Linked DNA regions of Homo sapiens: region 1 is linked to region 2. Evidence: fine-mapped expression QTL. A gene starts in region 2. The other region holds a variant in brackets. All regions are shown on one strand. Distances are from middle to middle. Region 1 has its middle 49 kb from the start of ABRAXAS2. Region 2 holds the start of EEF1AKMT2 (EEF1A lysine methyltransferase 2).

The links. PIP is the estimated chance that this variant, and not a neighbour inherited with it, causes the effect. A credible set is the group of variants that fine-mapping cannot tell apart.
Region 1: its variant is the best candidate, but not a certain one, in a credible set for the expression of EEF1AKMT2 in prefrontal cortex (GTEx, PIP 0.67).

Annotation. Positions count from the first base shown.
Region 1 is chr10:124,848,099-124,853,473 of GRCh38, reverse strand. No RefSeq gene overlaps it. Among named protein-coding and RNA genes, the nearest start is that of ABRAXAS2, 49 kb to the right of the region's middle. The variant T/C (reference allele first, on the strand shown) is at 2,204.
Region 2 is chr10:124,788,714-124,794,088 of GRCh38, reverse strand. EEF1AKMT2 (EEF1A lysine methyltransferase 2) reads left to right here and starts at 2,202. Exons shown (of 7, transcript NM_212554.4): 1 at 2,202-2,365; 2 at 3,751-3,816; 3 at 4,932-5,046. The coding sequence starts at 2,256. RefSeq lists enhancers at 803-1,525, 1,589-1,898, 1,526-2,250 and a silencer at 2,029-2,088.

The DNA.
Region 1 (5,375 bases), 59 kb before region 2:
GAGCCACCGCACCTGGTCAGGAATCACCTTACTGAATGTGAAATATTGAAAGCTTTCTCTCTGAGATCAAGTTTGAGACTAATACTTCTTTTTGTTTGTTTGTTTGTTTTTTGAGACGGAGTTTCACTCTTGTTGCCCAGGCTGGAGTGCAATGGCATCTCTACTAAAAATACAAAATTAACTGGGCGTGGTGGCAGGCGCCTGTAATTCCAGCTACTTTGGAGGCTGAGGCAGGAGAATCGCTTGAACCCGGGAGGCGGAGGTTGCAGTGAGCCGAGATCGCACCACTGCACTCCAGCCTGGGGAACAAGAGCGAGACTTCATCTCAAAACACACACAGGCACACACACACATGGACAGCTAGTTCATGGATTAGAAGACTCAATATCGTAAAGATGTCAATTCTTCCCAACTAGTCTATAGATCCAATGCAATATTTTAAAAATCTCAGCAAGATTATTTGGGGGCATGCAGAAGTTGACAAGCTAATTCTGACACATATATAGAAATGCAAACAGCCAAGAGTGACCAAGAGCAAAGCTCCAGGATTCATACTACCAGACATTAACAGTTATTGCTAGCCTACATTAAGATAAATAGGCCTCGGCTAGGTGCAGTGGCTCACACCTGTAATCCCAGCACTTTGGGAGGCTGAGGCAGGCAGATCACCTGAGGTCAGCAGTTTGAGACCAGCCTGCCAACATGGTGAAACCCCGTCTCTACTAAAATACAAACATTAGCTGGGCGTGGTGGCAGGCGCCTGTAATCCCAGCTACTCAAGAGGCTGAGGCATGAGAATAGCTTGAACCCAGGAGGTGGGGGTTGCAGTGAACCGAGATTGGGCCACTGCACTCCAGCCTGGGGGACAGAGGAAGACTCTGTCTCAAAAAAAAAAAAAAAAAAAAAAACAAAGCTCAGAAACAGATCTGTGTTTGATTTGATTTATGACAAATGTAATAATTCAGGGCAGTGGGAAGCGGTAATTTTTAGCAACTGGTGCTGAATCATCCAGACATTCTTTTGTTTTGAGAGAGGGTCTCACTCTGTCACCTAGGCTGGAGTGCAGTGGCTATTCATAGGCACAATCAGAGCACACTGCAGCCTCGTCCTCCTGGGCTCAAGCATTCCTCCCACCTCCACCTCCCAAGTAGCTGGGACTACAGGTGCATGCCACCGTGCCTGCCTAATTTTTTTTGTATTTGTAGGGATGGGGTTTCCCCATGTTGCCCAGACTGTCTGAATATTCATAGGGAAAAAGTAAACGTTGGCCTTTAGATTACAAAACATAAAAAAAATTTGACCATTCCTTCATACCATATACAAAAATAAAAATGTGAAAAGTTAAAACAATAAATCTTCTTGAAAAAAACAAACAAAACAAACTCAAAGTTTCATGGCCTTGGATAGGTAAAGATTTATTAAACAAGATACAAAAACAGCCATAAAGGAAAACAATTGGTAAATTATATTAGATTGTAATGGTGAATTTCTGTTAAGCAAAAATCATCTTTAAGAGAGTAAAATGGCCTGGAGAGGTGGCTCACACATGTAATTTCAACCTTCAGGAGGCTGAGGTAGAAAGATTGCTTGAGTCCAGGAATTCGAGAACAGCCTGGGCAACATAGCACAACCTTGCCTCTACTGAAAATTTAAAAAAATTAGCCGGGAGTGGTGGTGTGAGCCTGCAGTCCCAGCTGCACGAGAGAATCACTTGAGCCTGGGAGGTGGAGGCTGCAGTAAGCTATGATTGCACCACTGCACTCCAGCCTGGGTGACAGAGCAAGACCCTCTGTTTCAAAAAAAAAAGAGTAAAAAGACAAGCTACTAAATGGGAGAAAGAAGATAGTTGGTATGTATACATATGTATGTATACCAACACACACATATATATATACACATTCACATGCATATATATCTTAAACCTCGTATCTGGAATATATATGAAGTCTGCAAATCAATAAGAAAAAGGCAGACAACATGACAAAAAAACAGGTGCAGGACCAAATAAGCTCATCAGTCTCTGGGGCAATGCAACTGCAAATCACAGTGATCTGCAGGCTAAGCAGAATGGCTAAAATGTTTTAAACTGGCAATACCAAATGTGGTTGAAGATGGGGTTGCTGGAATGCCCATACTTTGCTGTGGGAGTGTGACTTGGTGGGACAACTTTGGGAAACTGTTGGCTTCTACTAAAGCTGAACAT[T/C]TGCAGCCTTTCTGACCAGCAATTCACTCTTAGCTATCTATATACCCCAAATATATGCAGACATCTGACATACATTTACCAAAACACATGATGAGAATGTTCACACCTGCATTATTTGCACCCACCTTTCAAAAGTCTCAAATGTCCATCAACAGTTGACCATTGGGTACTCAACAACCTGAATGAATCATACAAGCATCATGTTGGGTGAAAGAAGTAGGAAAGTCTATAACCAAACAAAATCATTTTTTTTTTTTTTTGAGATAGAGTTTCGCTCTTGTTGCCCAGGCTGGAGTGCAATGGCACAATCTCAGCTAACCACAACCTCCGCCTCCTGGGTTCAAGCGATTCTTCTGCCTCAGCCTCATGAGTAGCTGGGATTACAGGCATGTGCCACAACGCCCAGCTAATTTTGCATTTTTAGTAGAGACATGGTTTCTCCATGTTGGTCAAGCTGGTCTCCAACTCCCGACCTCAGGTGATCTGCCTACCTTGGCCTCCCAAAGTGCTGGGATTACAGGCATGAGCCACCGTGCCCGGCCCAGACAAAATCAATTTATGTTGATAGAGGTTAACAGAGTGAGGGTAACAACCAAGAGGGGACATGAAGGGAAATTGTGAGGCACAGGCATGTTGTTTTATTTTGTTTTGGTTTGAGACAGAGCCTCATTCTGTTGCCCAGGCTGGAGTGCAGTGGTGCCATCTCGGCTCACTGCAACCTCTGCACCCCGGGTTCAAGCAATTCTCCTACCTCAACCTCCAGAGTAGCTAGGATTACAGGCGCTTTCCACCCCGCCCGGCTGCTCTGTCGCCAGGCTGGAGTGCAGTGGTGTGATCTGGCCTCACTCCAACCTCCGCCTCCCAGGTTCAAGCAATTCCCCTGCCTCAGCCTCCCAAGTAGCTGGGACTACAGGCATGCACCACCACGCCCGGCTAATATTTTTTTTTTTTTTGTATTTTAGTAGAGATGGGGTTTCACCATGTTGGTCAGGATGGTCTTGATCTCCTGACCTCAGGTGATCTGCCTGCCTCAGCCTCCCAAAGTGCTGTGATCTCGACTCACTGCAACCTCCATCTCCGGGTTCCAGCAATTCTCATGCCTCAGCCTCCCAAGCAGCTGGGATTACAGGCACGCACCACCACACCCAAATACAAAAATACTAATTTTTGTATTTTTAGTAGAGACGGGGTTTCGCCATGTTGGTCAGGCTGGTCTCCAACTCCTGACCTCAGGTGATCCACCTGCCTCAGCCTCCCAAAGTGTTGGGCCTACAGGAATGAGCCACCAAGCCCGGCCAATGTTTTGTTTCTTAATGTTCGTGCCAGTCACATAGGTATGTTCACTTTGTGAAAATCTGACAAGCTATACATTTATGATTTGTGTCCTTTTTTGTATATATGTTACACCTTGATAAAAATTTACTCGAACAAAAGAGAAGGGGAGTGAAGGGGTGGGGAGAGAGGGAGGGTTGGAGAACAGAGAGAAAGAGTGAAGGAGGGAGAGAAGATGCTAACAAAACGGGGCTGCACATGAGTCCCACCTGCTCTCCAGGTGCCTGGAGCACCCTCTCCCAGCGTCTGCTCAGGCACAGTGCACTCAGGCCGGGTCGGCAGCAGATGGCTAGAGCAAGGTGCCAGGGCTCTCTCTCGCCATCCTCTTTCTCCTGAGGGCTTGGATGTCACTCAGCCTCGCCCATAACTCTGTGCCCACTCTCCCTGGGTGGGTGGAGATTTGAATGCCAGCCTCCGGATGAAGAAGGGGATTAATTTGATCCTCCACCTGGGTACCTCTGAGCAGGCAGGCCGAGGACTGAGCAAGTGGAAGGTGTGGATGAGCTGCAGAAATGAGGTTGGCTTCTGCTTGATGCAGCCTTCCCTGTCACGTCCTGAGCAGGGGGAGGAGTGTGCTTGTCAGGACAAGGGTCACCGAGATTGCAGCTGCCCCAGGCGAGCTCCCCTTATGCTTCCCGCTCTGGCCTGTCTGCATCCAAGGTGCCAGGACACTGTGAAGAGCGTCCCAGGCTGGGCTGAGGACAGCCACGCTTCCTGAGCAGGATGCCAAGCCCCGTGGGGCCCAGAGCAAATGCTCCAGCCTGTCCTTTGTTTATTTCAATCTGGGACAAATGTTGCCGGAGAGGATCTCTACTATCCTTTCCTGTGCTGACATTCTCCAAGCCCGTCATGGTCTGGAGCAGACACAGCTGTAAGAGGAGGCAGGAGGCCTGGGCTCTGGGTCTTTCAGTGGCTTTGTGACCTTGGGCCCATCATCATGCTACTCTTGCCTCGGTTGTTCCCTCTTTGTGAAATGAGGGGTCAGCATCCTATGTCATCCAATTTGGTAACCATTAGCCATATGGCATGCAGCTTCTTAAATCTAGATTTAAATGAATTAAAATTGAATGAAATTTAAAACTTGGGCCAGGTGCAGTGACTCACACCTGTAATGCCAGAACTTTGAGAGGTGGCGGTGGATCGGAAGGGGGGGTGGATCGCTTGAGGCCAGGAGTTCAAGGGCAACCTGGGCAACAAATTGAGACCTCGTTTTTTTCTTTGTTTGTTTGTTTGTTTTCGAGACGGAGTCTTGCTCTGTCACCCAGGTTGGAGTGCAATGGCTCGATCTCGGCTCACCACAACCTCTGCCTCCCAGGTTCAAGCCATCCTCCTCCCGAGTAGTTGGGATTGCAGGCGCACGCCACCACACCCTGCTAATTTTTCTATTTTTAGTAGAGACGGGGTTTCACCATGTTGGTCAGGCTGGTCTCGAACTCCTGATCTCGTGATCCGCCCGCCTCGGCCTCCCAAAGTGCTGGGATAACAGGCGTGAGCCACTGCGCCTGGCCCCAAGACCCCCGTTTTTACAAAACAGGGTCTCTCCCCCAGGCTGAAGTGCAGTGGCACCATCTCAGCTCACTGCAACCTCCACCTCCTGGGTTCAAGCAACTCTCCCTGACTCAGCCTCCCGAGTAGCTGGGATTACAGGTGCCCACCAGCATGCCCGGCTAACTTTTGTAGTTTTAGTAGAGACAAGGTTTCACCATGTTGGCCAGGCTGGTCTCGAACTCCTGACTTCAGGTGATCCACCCACCTCGGCCTCCCAAAGTGCTGGGATTACAGGCGTGAGCCACCACACCCGGCCAAAATTTTTCTTTTTTAAATTAGCCAGTCATGGTGG
Region 2 (5,375 bases):
CTGGGATTACAGGCGACTGCCACCATGCCTGGCTAATTTTTGTCTTTTTAGTAGAGATGGGGTTTCGCCATGTTGGCCAGACTGGTCTCGAACTCCTGACCTCAGGTGATCCGCCTGCCTCGGCCTCCCAAAGTGCTGGGATTACAGGCTTGAGCCACTGCGCCCGGCCTTTACTTTAATCATTACGCACAAGGATTTCCATCTGCCTTTTTTTTTTTTTATTATTGGAGACAGAGTCTCACTCTGTTGCCAGGCTGGAGTGCAGTGGCGCAATCTCGGCTCACTGCAATCTCCGCCTCCCAGGTTCAAATGATTCCCCTGCCTCAGCCTCCCAAGTAGCTGGGACTACAGGCGCGCGCCACCATGCCTGGCTAATTTTTTGTATTTTAGTAGAGACAGGATTTCACCATTTTGGCCAGGATGGTCTCTATCTCCTGACCTCGTGATCTGCCTGCCTTGGCCTCCCAAAGTGCTGGGATTACAGGCGTGAGCCACCGTGTCCGGCCTCCTGTCTGCCTTTTATCTTACCCTATCACTAGTGGCTGCCTGAAGATCTCAGAACAGCATCTATAGGAGATGCGCATCCGATCCTAGGAAGGATTTCTGATGCTATTTTATCTTTAGGGACTTGTTACTGGGCTTCTGTCTGCCAAGACAACAGAAACGTGGCCTAGCAAACAATTCCTTTTGGTTGGAAGGCAGTCTCGCTAGGGGCATTTGAGGGCCTTGCCTAGGACATAGGACCAGCAGTATTTCACAGCTACTACAGAAAATACCCCAGACTTTGGCCCATAAGATCTCTTGTATTATACTGCAGATCTACCAATGGCACTCAGACCCAGAGGCAGATGCAATCTCCGGTTCGCGGGTTGGGAGCAGTTTTGTGGAACAAAGACACCGTCTAGTTCTGACATGGTACAGGGAGGAAACACACAGAGGTTAAGACTTAGACAAGAGGCCAGGCGCGGTGGCTCACGCCTGTAATCCCTGCACTTTGGGAGGCTGAGGCGGGAGGATCACTTGAGGTCGGGACTTCGAGACCAGCCTGACCAACATGAAGGAACCCCGTCTCTACTAAAAATACAAAATTAGGCCGGGCGCGGTGGCTCACGCCTGTAATCCCAGCACTTTGGGAGGCCGAGGCGGGTGGATCACGAGGTCAGGAGATCGAGACCATCCTGGCTAACACGGTGAAACACCGTCTCCACTAAAAAAAATACAAAAAATTATCCGGGCGTGGTGGTGGGCGCCTGTAGTCCCAGCTACTCCGGAGGCTTAGGCAGGAGAATGGCGTGAGCCCGGGAGGCGGAGCTTGCAGCGAGCCGAGATCGAGCCACTGCACTCCAGCCTGGGCGACAGAGCGAGACTACGTCTAAAAAACAAAACAAAACAAAATTAGCCTGGCGTGGTGGCGCCCGCCTGTAATCCAGTTACTCGGGAAGTTGAGGCAGGAGAATCGCTTGAACCCGGGAGGCGGAGGTTGCGGTGAGCCGAGATCGCGCCATTGCATTGCACTCCAGCCTGGGCGACAAGAGCGAAACTTCGTCTCAAAAAACAAAACAAAACAAAACAAAACAAAACAAACTTAAGCAAGGCCAGGTGCCTGGGTCGAGGCAGAGCTGAGGCTTATCCGGGCATCCTCTCACTTAGCAGTCTTTCTTCCACAACACACTGATCCCCGTGTTTGGCGTATTGTGGAGAGTTGCAGGGCATTCCTTTCCCTGGACATAAATTTCCACGTCTACCGGTGACATCAAGTCACAAGAGGCCAGAACGCGGTTTTCAAGTCAGAATCTTAGCCAGAAACGAAGTTGGCCTCTTGCCAAGGAGCCAAATAACTGGATGGACGCTCGCACCCGCTTCGCAGACAGGCGCACGCAGTGGAGAGGTGAAGTGATTTCTGCGTTTGGGTAGAGCGGCGTCGGCTTTAGGTGTCCACGGTGCGGAAGCCAGCCGTTTTCCAAAATGCAATACCTCTAATGGTCCCTCACGAACAGCAGTCCCCAAATACAGCCGCTCTTGGACCTCGACGAAGGGGATGCCACTAACGCTGTGGGGAGAGCGCACGGTCCCCGCCGGCGCAGGGAGCCGGGGGTAGAGCAGAGGGCGTCGCGTCCCCATCCCAGCCCCAGCGCGGGGGCTGGAGCAGTCGAGAGGGCGGCCTCCCGCCGCCTAGAGGCGCCGGTCCGCTCGTCCGCTCTGCCTGTGCCCCGTCTCTATGGCGGCCCCAACGGCCGTCCAGGACGTGGAGCGAAATGAGCTCGGGCGCTGACGGCGGCGGTGGCGCTGCGGTGGCGGCGCGGTCGGACAAGGGCAGTCCCGGGGAGGACGGTTTCGTCCCGTCGGCGCTGGGGACCCGCGAGCAGTGAGTGTGACGCTGGGCAGGGGAGGATGAGCCGTGCCGCCCTGCCTGGGCCCCGAGAAGGGGACGGCGGGGTGGAGACCCGGGGCTCAGGGACAGGGAGACCCTCGGGGGCGTGACGGGAGCAGGGCCACCTGGCGGGGGGCTTACGGGGATTTCAAAGAGTGGAATCCCTAGGGGTCGCCCTACGCGGTTAACCGACGTTTCAAGGGATTGGAGCCCAAGGGGCTTGTGGGTGCGGGACAGGCTTTGGCTCCTGGGAGGCCTTTTGGGAGTCTCGAACCTGAGGGCCAGGCTTGGGGGAAAGGGGGAGAGGGCGAGGCTGGCGAATAGGGCTGGTCGGCGAGAGTGAGAGACCGAGGGAGAAGTGCTGGGCCTGGGAGCCGAAAAGGCTGAGTAGGAGGGGAGGGATGTGGGAGCTGGAAGTGGGGTGGGAATAGCGGATGACCCGAGGCGGGAGCGGGGAGATAGTGGGGGATCTTGGGGTGAAAGAAAGCGATCTGACCTCAAACAGACGCTCAGGAATTATTAAATGAATTAATGTGGGTGGATGAATGGCTGCAGGGAACAGTTGGGGAGAGGTAAATTGGCGGGATGAGAGGGAGCAGGGATTCTAGAGAATCATTGTAGGAAAAGAGACGGCAAATGAAAAGGATTCAGAGGGCCGGGTGCGTGGTGGCTTACGCCTGTAATCCCAGCACTTTGGGAGGCCGAGGCGGGCGGAGCACAAGGTCAGGAGATCGAGACCAGCCTGACCAACATGGTGAAACCCCGTCTCTACTAAAAATACAAAAATTAGCGGGGTGTGGTGGCGCACACCTGTAGTCCCAGCTACTCGGGAGGCTGAGGCAGGAGAATCGCTTGAACCCGGGAGGCGGAGGTTGCAGTGAGCCGAGATCGCGCCACTGCACTCCAGCCTGGTGACAGAGCGTGACTCCGTCTCAAAAAAAGAAGAAAAGCGTCCAGAGAAAATTTAAACGGAGGGCTAGAAGACTGGAATAGGCAGAGACAAATAGCACAGGAAAGAGACTGTGTGCCTGCACACTTGAGACCAGATGTGCTTGTTTCATCAAGTTTTGAACTTGGGTCAGGGACTTAGGGATACGTGGACAAATGTCTTTGTGTTTTTTTAGGCTAAAACTTATTGTTGTGCATCAGATATTGTCCTAAATGCTTTACATGTACAGTATAAACGTATTCTGCTTGCCCATGTATTTCCTTCTTTTAACTCAAGGACGTTAAAAGATTGAACTATGTGTATTTATTAATAACACTAGTGATGTTTAAACCTCTGTCATAAATAGCTCTGTAATGTATTAGAAACATACATTTAATTCATAATACAGTTTAATTCAAGAGTCTTGCTTTGCATTTCATTGTTTACATAGTTGGGATGCTGTCTATGAGAGAGAACTGCAAACTTTCCGAGAATATGGAGATACAGGTGAAATCTGGTGAGTTAGGAAAAGAATCAAGTTATAATCTAGAAGATTATATGTATATGTGTGTGTGTTTAAAAAAATACGTATATATTCGCCGGGCGCGGTGGCTTACGCCTGTAATCCCAGCACTTTGGGAGGCCGAGGCAGGCAGATCACGAGGTCAGGAGATAGAGACCATCCTGGCCGACATGGTGAAACCCTGTCTCTACGAAAATTAGACAAAAAATTAGCCAGGCATGGTGGCGCGCGCCTGTAGTCCCAGCTACTTGGGAGGCCGAGGCAGGGGAATCATTTGAACCTGGGAGGCGGAGATTGCAGTGAGCTGAGATCGCGCCACTGCACTCCATCCTGGGCGACAGAGTGAGACTCCATCTCAAAAAAAAAAATGCATATATTCAAGTGCTTATACCCAAAGAAAGCCTAAAAATCCTGGGAACCCTGGATTAAGTCTGGCTTTAGTGGGTAGATTTAAAGTATGTCTCTTCTTTTATTCTTTTTTAATTTTTTACTTTTTTTTTTTTTTTAGAGAGGTGGGGTGTCATTCTGTCATCCAGGCTGGAGTACAGTGGCATGATCATCATAACTCGTTACATCCTGGACCTCCTGGGCCCAGGTGATCCTCCCGCCACAGCCTCCTGGGTAGCTGGGACTATAGCTGCATGCCATCATGCCCAGCAAATTTTCTTTTTTGTAGAGACAGGGTCTCACTGTGTTACCCAGGGTGGTCTCGAACTCCTGGCCTCAAGCAGTCCTCCCACCGTGGCCTTCCAAAGTGTTGGGAGAATGGGTGTGAGCCCTCTTTTAATATCTCACATTTACGTTTGATGACAGCATTTCACCCTATAGTTGTCCTTTGTCAATAAACAATAAAATTCTGAGACACCAACACATACAACTGTTAATGCTGATATAGAGAAATGTTAGTAAATAACATACTGACCTTGTCTATTCTGTTGTATTCCTGGAGGTGGTTTCTCCTAAATTACAGTAGAGACAAAGCTGAAGCAGTCACAGATGTTTTCACTTTCAAATAAGAGTTTGAGCATATGGTATAAATAGCTTAAATGGAATATAGTGGTGACTTTTGCTCTGTATCCCTCAGTTATTTGACTGATTCTCTCTAACAGGTTTGGAGAAGAGAGTATGAATCGACTAATAAGGTGGATGCAGAAACACAAGATTCCACTGGATGCTTCAGTGCTTGATATTGGAACTGGAAATGGTGTTTTCCTGGTTGAACTTGTTGGTACTTTTAGTATTTGTTTGTTAAAGACAAATTTTAAAAGGAAAATTTTTAAAGGCCCTGCAATTGAGGATATTAACCATCTAAATATAAAATAGTAAAGCAGTCATACTTGGAGAAGTCAGATAGTACAAAAGGGAGGCTACATGGATTGTGAGAGAACCTAGGCAATCTGAGTCCTAGTCTTGACTCTTTTGGCTATAGTCTTAACCTTGAGTAAGCCACTTAATTTTTCTAGGCTTCTGTTCTTTCCTAAGGGTTGTGACTAGGTGATTGCTATTGGTTTCTTGTAGCTCAAAACTCTAGAAATGCATATATATATATATAT